Regions from separate parts of the Homo sapiens genome. Here all the other regions are linked to region 2. Evidence: fine-mapped expression QTL. A gene starts in region 2. Each other region holds a variant in brackets. All regions are shown on one strand. Distances are between the middles of the regions.

Region 1 (2,755 bases), 39 kb after region 2:
TTTCTTTATTCTTCCACGATAATTCCTAGCACCATTCTCAACGGAGCTGGCGACGCAATGTCCACTCTTCAGTTGGGTCCATTGCCTTTTTATAATTCTGGCCGTCATAATACTATAAAAGCCAGCACTCCTTCTATCACAATCTGTTCGGTGGGGGAAAGGCTGTCACTTTCTTTCTTTCTTTTTTTTTTTTTTGAGATGGAGTCTCACTCTGTCACCCATGCTGGAGTGCAGTGGCGTGATCTCCGCCCACTGCAAGCTCCGCCTCCCAGGTTCAAACGATTCTCCTGCCTCAACCTCTCAAGTAGCTGGGACTACAGGTGCCCGCCACCATGCCTGGCTAATTTTTGTATTTTTACTAGAGACAGAGCTTCGCCATATTGGCCAGGCTGGTCTCAAACTCCTGATCTCAGGTGATCTGCCTGCCTCCGCCTCCCAAAATGCTAGGATTACAGGCGTGAGCCACCGTGCCCGGCCAAAGCTATCACTTTCTAAGTGCTTAACCTGTACCAAGCATGGTACTAAGTGCTTTACATATATATATTGAACACTCGTAACAACCTGCTGACATAGGTGCTGTTATTGGCCCAATTTTTCAGAAGGCAAAATGGAGACACAGAGAGAGGTTAGGCAATCTGCCCAATCTCACACAGCTGAAACACAGCAACAGGGTAGCGATCTGTGCCGGGAAGGTCGGCTGTAGGACCTGCGCTCAGTCATGTGCCACTTTGTTAGTCCACCTTTTGTATTATTTCTTTCCAGGTACTTAATATTGATTTTTTCTCTAACTTTTTATTTTGAAACAATTTAGGACTTACTGAAAAGTTGCAAGAACAGTACAGAGAGCTTCTGTACCTCCCTCACCCAGCTCCCACCACTGACAGCATCTTACATGACTGTAATATAATTACCAAAAGTGGGAAATTAACATTGGCACAGTGCTGTTCAATAAAGACCTTATTCAAATTTCACGGTTTTTTCACTAATGTCCTCTTCTGTTCTGTTCCATTTTGCATTTCATTGTTACTTCTCCCAGCCTCCTGCAGCCTGGGACAGTTCTTCAGTTTTTCCTTGTATTTCATGATCTGAACACTTTTATAGACTATCCACCAGTTATCTTGTAGAATATCACTCAGTTTGTGTTTGTTTGATGTTTTTCCATTTTGGAACGAGGTTATGCCTTTTTGGCAGTAATACTGCAGAAATGGGCTGGGCACAGTGGCTCATGCCTGTAATCCCAACAATTTGGGAGGCTGAGGCAAGAGAATCACTTGAGCGCAGGAGTTTAAGACCAGCCTGGGCAACATAGCAAGACCCCATCTCTACAAAAGAATTTTTAAATAGCCAAATGTGGTGGTGCATGCCTGCAGTCCAAGCGACTCAGTAGGCTGAGGCAGGAGGATCACTTGAGCCCAACAGGTGGAGGCTGCAGTTAGCCATGATCATGCCATTGCCCTCCAGCTTGGGTGACTGAAAGAGACCCTGTCTCAAAAATAATAATAACACAGAAATGATGTTTGGCGCGGTGGCTCACACCTGTAATCCCAGCACTTTGGGAGGCC[A/G]AGGTGGGCAGATCACGAGGTCAGGAGATCGAGACCATCCTGGCTAACATGGTGAAACCCCATTTCTACTAAAAATACAAAAAATTAGCCGGGCATGGTGGCAGGTGCCCGTGGTCCCAGCTACTCGGGAGGCTGAGGCAGGAGAATGGCGTGAACCCGGGAGGCGGAGCTTGCAGTGAGCCACTGCACTCCAGCCTGGGTGACAGAGCAAGACTCCATCTCAAAAAAAACAAAAACAAAACAAAACAAAACTTTACCAGGTGCACTCAAATGCAGGTTTCTTTGTTTTGGTGGGTTTTTTTTTTTTTTTGACAGAGTCTTGCTCTGTCACCCAAACTGAAGTGCAGTGGCACAATTTTGGCTCACTGCAACCTCTGCCTCCCAGGTTCAACTGATTCTCCTGCCTCAGCCTCCCCAGTAGCTGGGATTACAGGCATGCACCACCACACCTGGCTAATTTTTGTGTGTTACTAGTAGAGACAGGATGTCACCATGTTGGCCAGGCTGTTTTCGAACACCTGACCTCAGGTGATTCACCTGCCTCAGCTTCCCAAAGTGTTGGGATTACAGACGTGAGCCACCGTGCCCGGCCCTCAAATGCAGGTTTCTAATAACTTTGGAGATTGTGACATTAGAAAAGAGGGAAAAACTTTAGGACTCTCTTGGAGAGCTAAAATGTTCATGAATATCAAACAGGAGTTAACTGCATAGACTAAAGAAGTCTGAAGCTAGCCAGGCGCAGTGGCTCACACCTGTAATCCCAGCACTTTGGGAGGCCGAGGCAGGCAGATCATGAGGTCAGGAGTTCGAGACCATCCTGGCCAACATGGTGAAACCCCGTCTCTACTAAAAATACAAAAATTAGCCGGGCATGGTGGTGCTCACCTGTAGTCCCAGCTACTCAGGAGGCTGAGGCAAGAGAATGGCGTGAACCCCGGGAGATGGAGGTTGCGGTGAGCCAAGATCGCACCACTGCACTCCAGCCTAGACAGAATGAGATTCTGTCTCAAAAAAAAAAGAAGTCTGAAGTAATCTTTTTAACTTTGTTGAAAAGGTTGCTGATCTTTTGTTTTTCAGAGTCAAGAAAATTTTTCTGTTGAGCTATTTACAGCTTTTAGCAAATGAGTAAAGTATACTTCTGTAAACAAAATTCGGAGCGTATCTGTTTCTATCTGCCTGATTTGGAAACTATT
Region 2 (2,500 bases):
CTGGACATGGCTAAGCCCTTAGAGCTCACCCCAGCCAGCAGAAGGAGGAGGACTTAGGGTGTTCGACGTCGAGAAGCACTGTGAGTCGATGGTAGACACAGCCATTGTTAAAGTTAAATCTTAGGAATCTTAGAAATTATCAATAAAATTTATCTTATAGAGCCAAAGTCATCGTTACTCAAACACATCACTCTGCAGTTACACGGCTGCACGCTACCGTCATGTAAACTCTGGAATACTGACGTGGACCTGACCACCCGCTGAGGTGAAAGGCTACAGCAGGGTGAGCAGCTGCCCATCTCTGTAAATTCCACCCTCAGCGATGTCCTCTGCGGAGTCTGGCCTGGTGGGAGAATAAGCCCAGGAAAATGGGCCCATGTAGCACATCAGGAATTAAACAGGGCGCAGGTCGCGGTGCACATAGGCCTGCAGGCCACGTTCCTGCCCCTGTGACCCGCACTGTCCCCTCTGACAAGCTCAAGTGCACAGCATCAGCTCTGTTTGCTGCAATAGCCTCTGCCAAGGAAGGTCCAGGAAGAAGCCCAGAGGCCACACAAGGTGTTTCCACAGGGAGGCTGTAACCTCAGGAGCTGCTCAGAGGCAGCACCGGTTCATGGGAAAAACAGGCGGCAACTACAGGAAGCAGCTGGCACCCGTGTGAGGACCCAGGGAAGAGGCAGAGATGATCAGAACCTGGAAATCTGGAGGGTGCCCCAGGGACCAGCCAGCCAGAGCTCTGGGCAGCGTGGGTGCTGCTGGGCTGTGTGGAGCGGGTCTGGGAGCCGTCACCCAGGTGGGCCTCCAGGGGAAAGGGCCATGGCTTCTAACTCCACCGTCCAGGTCTCTGCTATTGGCATCCCACAGCCCCCTCTTCTGTCAGTGCTCCCAGAGTCCCCTTTCCTGGGCCTGGAGGGCTCCTTTGGGGCAGGCAACATTGGCCGCCAACCCTCTGACCTGCACCAGGAGACACGGGGACCTTTAACCCCCAAACCCGCATGGAGCAGGACTGCAACCCCAGCAAAGGACAAGGGATGTCAGCAGATGAGGCCTGTGACAAGTGAGATGAGGGCTTTTTTTTTTTTTTGAGACGGAGTCTGGCTCTGTTGCCCAGGCTGGAGTGCAGTGGCACAACCTTGGCTCACTGCAAGCTCCGCCTCCCCGGTTCACGCCATTCTCCTACCTCAGCCTCCCAAGTAGCTGGGACTACAGGTGCCCGCCATCACACCCGGCTAATTTTTTTTTGTATATTTAGTAGAGACGGGGTTTCACCGTGTTAGCCAGGATGGTCTCGATCTCCTGACCTCATGATCCTCCCACCTCAGCCTCCCAAAGTGCTGGGATTACAGGCGTGAGCCACGGCGCCCGGCAGAGGTGAGGGCTTTGGGGAAACGGTTGTGGGGCCTGGAGTGTGGAGGCGTCAGCGCAGGCCTGGCAGGAGCCCTGAACCGGGACAGTGAGGTCCTGCAGCTGCTGGCCTGGGGTGTGGAGACTCCCAACACAGGGGAAGTCTCCAGGACCCCACACCACTAACAAGATGAGACTTGTGCTCCTTTGGGCTCTAGAGAGGAAGCCCCTCTTAGCCCTCAGCCCCTCTTTCCTCCCTCTCCTAAAGTAATTTGATCCTCAGGAATTTGTTCTGCCCTTATCTGGCCCTGGCCAGCTCTGCATTTGACAAATGCCAGGAAGAGGAAACTGTTGAGAAAACGGAACTACTGGGGAAAGGGAGGGCTCACTGAGAACCATCCCGGTAACCCGATCACCGCTGGTCACCATGAACCACATTGTGCAAACCTTCTCTCCTGTCAACAGCGGCCAGCCTCCCAACTACGAGATGCTCAAGGAGGAGCAGGAAGTGGCTATGCTGGGGGTGCCCCACAACCCTGCTCCCCCGATGTCCACCGTGATCCACATCCGCAGCGAGACCTCCGTGCCTGACCATGTGGTCTGGTCCCTGTTCAACACCCTCTTCATGAACACCTGCTGCCTGGGCTTCATAGCATTCGCGTACTCCGTGAAGGTGCGTATGGCCCTGGCGGAAATCCAGGGGGTGCCGGTGAGCCTGGGGCTCCACCTGCCCACATGCTGCCTGGGGTGGGGACTTGTGTGTCCCTGTGACTGTGAGTTTGTGTGCACGTCTGTCCTGTGTGTGCCCACGTCAGTGGCTTTGTCTGTGTGATCTGTGTGTGTGTGTGGCTTGGGGAATCTGCCCAGTGCAGGTCTAGGAGGAGGCTCCAGGAGGCTGGCTGGCTGGCTCAGAGTCTGTCCCCGGCTATCCACTAGCCCAGAGCAGTTCTCCCTATAGCCCAGTAAGAAATTACACCTTCACCTTCCAGACTGGCACCCAGGCTCTCCCAGAAAGTGAGAAGGGAACTCACAGGTGACTTCACCCCATGGTGGGGAGAACAGCCTGTGCTGGGGCCAAGGCAGAAGGAGGATGAGCCCCGAGGCTCCTGGAGAGTCTGAGCCGGGTGAGGAAGGGGAGGAGGTGGTCCCTGATCTC
Region 3 (2,755 bases), 43 kb after region 2:
GCCATTATGATGGCAGAAACCAAGAGAAAGTACGGCCACGTGGTTACAAGGCCAAGGTCCCAAGGACATGACGGACCAGAGGGAAGCCTCGTCCAGTTTACACACACACACACACACACACACACACAACACACACACCCCCACACACACCACACACACACCACACACACACCACACGCACACACACACCTCACACACACACACCACACATACCACACACACCCCACACACACAACACACACCCCCCACACACACACACCACACACACACCACACACAAACACCACACACACACCACACACACACCATACACACACACCACACACACACCACACGCACACACACACCTCACACACACACACCACACATACCACACACACCCCACACACACAACACACACCCCCCACACAAACACCACACAAACACCACACACACACCATACACACACACCACACACACACACCACATACACACCCACACACACCCCACACACACACACCCACACACACCCACACACACACCACACACACAACACACACCCCCCACACACAAACACCACACACACACCACACACAAACACCACACACACACACCACACACAAACACACACCACATACACACCCACACACACCCCACACACACACACCACACACACACCATACACACACACCACAAACACACACCACATACACACCCACACACACCCCACACACACACACCATACACACACCCACACACACAACACACACACACACACACACACACAGAGACAGAAGTCTGACTGGTGAGCAGTTCTTGCACTTGTGCCAGCATGACAGATTTCTGGGTTTCTTTTCCTGGGGGGCCCTAGTGACCCAACTGTAGCAGGACTAGCTGCAGACAAAACCCCTCAGACACCGAGTTAAAGAAGGGCTTTATTCGGCCGGGAGCTTTGGCAAGAGTCAAATCTTCAACAGCCGAGCTCCCCGAGTGAGCAATTCCTGTCCCTCTTCAGGGCTCACAACTCTAAGAGGGTCCACGTGAGAGGGTCGTGATCGATTGAGCAAGCAGGGGGTATGTGACTGGGGGCTGCATGCACCGGTAATCAGAACAGGACGGGACGGGGTTTTCACAGTGCTTTTCTATACAATGTCTGGAATCTATAGGTAATATAACCGATTAGATCAGCCAGCGGTCGATCTTTAACTACCAGGCCCAGGGTGTGGCGTTGGGCTGTCTGCTTGTGGATTTCATTTCTGCCTTTTAACTTCTTTCTCTGGAGGCAGAAATTGGGCATAAGACAATGTGAGGGGTGGTCTCCTCCCTTACGACTGGCTGTACCACAGCCCTGGGGGCCAAGCTGCAGCACAAAGGAAGTTACCTCTTTCCGTTCTGGCCAGGGCAAAATACGTGTGAGAAAACAGAGACATCAGCCACTCTGCTTAGCACCTAACATCACACTGGCAAGGCTCAAACTTGCTCCGGTCATCGTTAATCCAACCTCCAACCACAAGTTTCAACACGTGTTCTCTGGGCAAGTCGGTTGCCCCAAGTGATAGAAAAGATAAAAAAGAGAAAGGAGAGAGAGAAAAGCATCGCCTGAGGCAGGGTGGGGAAGGCAAAATGCTCAGGGAGGCCAGAGAAAGACCCGCCCATTGCAGGAACCCTG[A/C]GGACTTCAGGCGGCTGCTGTTGGGAAGGGACTTTTTCCGGCAGTCCCATCAGCTCTCAGGTTCCCCTTTTGCGAGAGGAGAAAGCTCCCCATGTTCCACGATCCTGTACGTGCCTAATCCTGTCACCCACAGCCGTCAGCAGAGAGTGCAAGGCAGATTAACCCAAAGAGAATAGCCGTTAACGTCCCCTCGTGCCGAACCCGTTCTCAGCCGAGAGGGACTTTTCTGAGAGGGACTTTACTGAGGGGGCTCTCTAAGCCCCTAAATCTTAAAAGGGACCCTAACCAACCCTCCTAAGGTGGGTCTCTAACCCAAGGTGGGTCAAGCATCCTTGCCTTGTATTAAGAGTGGGCTTTCACCCTCTCTGTCTTAGGACAGACCCTAACTCCCCTAAGTGGGCCTCTCACCCAATCCCATCCTTCGCCGGCTACCCCACCACTTACCCAGCGTCGTCCAGTCAGGGCCGAGTCTATTTCCTTTGGGTCGGGGGCTCCTCCTCAGTATTGTCCCTTCAGGGTTTGCCAGAAAGATGTTACCGGACCCCACTACTTACCCAAAGTTAGCCTTTAGGTCGGGGGTTTCCGCACTGGAGCCCCTCCTGAGGTCACCAGAGATATGTCACCTACCCAACGCTAGGTTTTGAGTCTGCAGTTTTTCTTCTGTGGTCGCCAGAAAGATGTTACCGGAAAGGGGTCCCGATCCAGACCCCGAGAGAGGGTTCCTGGATCTCATGCAAGAAAGAAATCAGGGGGAGTCCATAAAGTGAAAGCAAGTTGGCCGGGCGCAGTGGCTCACGCCTGTAATCCCACCACTTTGGGAGGCCAAGGCGGGCGGATCACGAGGTCAGGAGATCGAGACCATCCTGGCTAACACGGTGAAACCCCGTCTCTACTAAAAATACAAAAAAAAAAAAATTAGCTGGGCGTGGTGGCGGGCGCCTGTAGTCCCAGCTACGCGGGAGGCTGAGGCAGGAGAATGGCATGAACCCCGGGGGGCGGAGCCTGCAGTGAGCCGAGATCGCGACACTGCACTCCAGCCTGGGCGACAGCGAGACTCCGTCTCAAAAAAAAAAAAAAGAAAGCAAGTTAGTTTATTAGGAAAGTAAAG
Region 4 (2,608 bases), 51 kb after region 2:
CCACAAACACACATATGTGCACCATGCACATACATATACACACACCACACACAAAGGCACCATGTACATACACACCACAAACATACATACACACACACACCATACACATACACACAACACACACATACCACAAACACACAACATGCACACAACACACACATACACACCATAAACACACACAATGCACACACCACAAACACGCATACATACACACTTTTACACACACACACCATACATACACCCACACCACACACAACATACACACACCACAAACACATACACACACGCACACCACACATATACACCACACATATACACATATACCACACACACATGCACCATGCACACACATACAGACAACATACACATACACATCACAGATATGCACCATGCTCACAAATGCACATACACACCACACATACAACGTACACACAGGCACCACGCACATACACACACACCATGCATACACACATATACCCACATATACACCACATACACATACACACACTAAACACATACACATGCACACACACGTACACATACACACGTATACACATACACATGCACACGCATACACACACAATGTAAATATGCCCGTGGACCCAGGGTCCAACTGAGTGAACTCCCACAATTTGAGCAACACCTCATTCTACATCCTAACCCAAAGTGTGCTGTAAATACCTACAAGTGCATGGCGATATAAATTTATAAATGGGGGAGAAGAGACAAATCTCCCGTGCAGAAGAATTCTAAACCAATGGCGTAGACACTGCCCCTAAGGAGGAGCAGAGCCCCTCCCAGCCCCTCGACGTGGGCTGGCGCAGGGCCGTCCTTCCAGAGAGCGCGGGGTGGGAAGGGCTGGGCTCCTTCCGCGCGGCTCCACCTGCAGAAACCGATGGAGCTGATCCATCGTGGTTTGCACAGAGGAGCCTGACGGGCTCTGTCTCTGCAGAAGACGAGGCAGGCGTCGAGTTATGAGTCGCACCGGCGATGTTAGGATGGATGCAGATGCTGCTTTACCTCTGGAATCTTCTTCCAAGAAACCTATAACCCCAGCCTCCTCATGACAAAAAGAGCAGGCGAATCTCAGCAGGGGCACC[C/T]CGCCAACACACCCGGCCTCTTCTGAGCTGTCCAGGTCGTCAAAAGCAAAACGGCCCAGCCCAGAGGCCCCGGGAGACAGACGCTGAGGAACGCGGTCCTGGAACACAGAAAGGATGTCAGGGAAAACAAATGAGGGACTCTGGACCAACTGTGACTTTATTTGGTCAATAACGCATTAATACTGGTTCATTCATTATAACAAATACACCGAACTAAGCCAGACGGTAAAAACGAGGGGAACTGTTGGTGGAGCTGGGGGGCGGGGAAGCTCTCTGTGTTATTTCTGTAAATCTCAAACCCTTCCGAAAAATAAAGTCCATTCGTTTTTTAAAAATGCTAAACTGGGGCCGGGCACAGTGGCTCATGCCTGTAATCCCAGCACTTTGGGAGGCCAAGGCAGGTGGATCATCTGAAGTCAAGAGTTTGAGACCATCCTGGCCAACCTGGTGAAATCCCATCTCTACCAAAAACACAAAAATTAGCCGGGTGTGGTGGCGGGCACCTGTACTCCCAGCTGCTCAGGAGGCTGAGGCAGGAGAATCGCTTGAACCCAGGAGGCGGAGCTTGCAGTGAGCCGAGATCACTCTACCGCACTCCGGCCTGGGCGACAGAGCGAGACTCCCTCTCAAAAAAAAAAAAAAAAAAAGCGAAACTGACTGTGTTGTCATGCCCCCTCCTCCCTAATTGTGAAAGGCACAATTAGGTGTTGCAGTGGGCCCTGGAAATGGGGTCTCTGCCGGCCCCAGCATGGCAGGACTGGGGTGGCACCTCATGTCTACAGACAGGAGGTGTGGCCCAGGCGGGATCAGCATGGCTCCACCTGCAGAAGCCCTTGGAGCTGGCTGAGCCATCAAGGCACCCCTAGGCATGGGGGCTGCCTGCTGAAGCCTCACTTGATCTGTGTCATCAGAAAAACTCTAGGTGTGGTGGATAGAAGTGAGTCAGTCAGCTCAGTCTGCCATTACAAAACACCACAGAACAGAAATGTATTTTCTCACCTTTCTGGCTGCTGGAAGCCTGAGATCAGGGTGCCAGCGTGGTCAGGTTCAGAAGCTCCAACTCACTGTGTCCTCCCAGGGCCTTTCCTCAGCACGTGCATGTCAGGGGAGAGACAGACAGAAAGAGAGAGAGAAAGAGACAGAGGGAGAGAGAGATGGGGGAGAGACAGAGACAGGACAGAGAGATGGGGGAGAGATAGAGACAGAGAGGGAGAGCGAGAGAAACGGAGAGAGAGATGGGGGAGAGACAGAGAGAGGGAGAGAGAGATGGGGGAGAGATAGAGACAGAGAGGGAGAGAGATAGAGGGAGAGAGATGGGGGAGAGATAGAGACAGAGAGGGAGAGAGACAGAGGGAGAGAGATGGGGGAGAGATAGAGACAGAGAGGGAAAGAGAGAGAAACGGAGAGAGAGAGACAGAGGGAGAGAGAGATGGGGGAGAGACAGAGAGAGGGAGAGAGAGATGGGGGAGAGATAGAGACAGAGAGGGAGAGAGACAGAGGGAGAGAGA

What was found. PIP is the estimated chance that this variant, and not a neighbour inherited with it, causes the effect.
Region 1: its variant is fine-mapped to the expression of IFITM2 in whole blood (INTERVAL, PIP above 0.99).
Region 3: its variant is fine-mapped to the expression of IFITM2 in whole blood (TOPMed, PIP above 0.99).
Region 4: its variant is fine-mapped to the expression of IFITM2 in blood mononuclear cells (TOPMed, PIP 0.98).

The regions. Positions count from the first base shown.
Region 1 is chr11:345,435-348,189 of GRCh38, forward strand. No RefSeq gene overlaps it. Among named protein-coding and RNA genes, the nearest start is that of B4GALNT4, 23 kb to the right of the region's middle. The variant A/G (reference allele first, on the strand shown) is at 1,563.
Region 2 is chr11:306,422-308,921 of GRCh38, forward strand. IFITM2 (interferon induced transmembrane protein 2) reads left to right here and starts at 1,395. Exons shown (of 2, transcript NM_006435.3): 1 at 1,395-2,017. The coding sequence starts at 1,772. RefSeq lists enhancers at 1,636-2,055, 2,436-2,500.
Region 3 is chr11:349,406-352,160 of GRCh38, forward strand. No RefSeq gene overlaps it. Among named protein-coding and RNA genes, the nearest start is that of B4GALNT4, 19 kb to the right of the region's middle. RefSeq lists a cis regulatory region at 1,410-1,886. The variant A/C (reference allele first, on the strand shown) is at 1,648.
Region 4 is chr11:357,458-360,065 of GRCh38, forward strand. No RefSeq gene overlaps it. Among named protein-coding and RNA genes, the nearest start is that of B4GALNT4, 11 kb to the right of the region's middle. The variant C/T (reference allele first, on the strand shown) is at 1,101.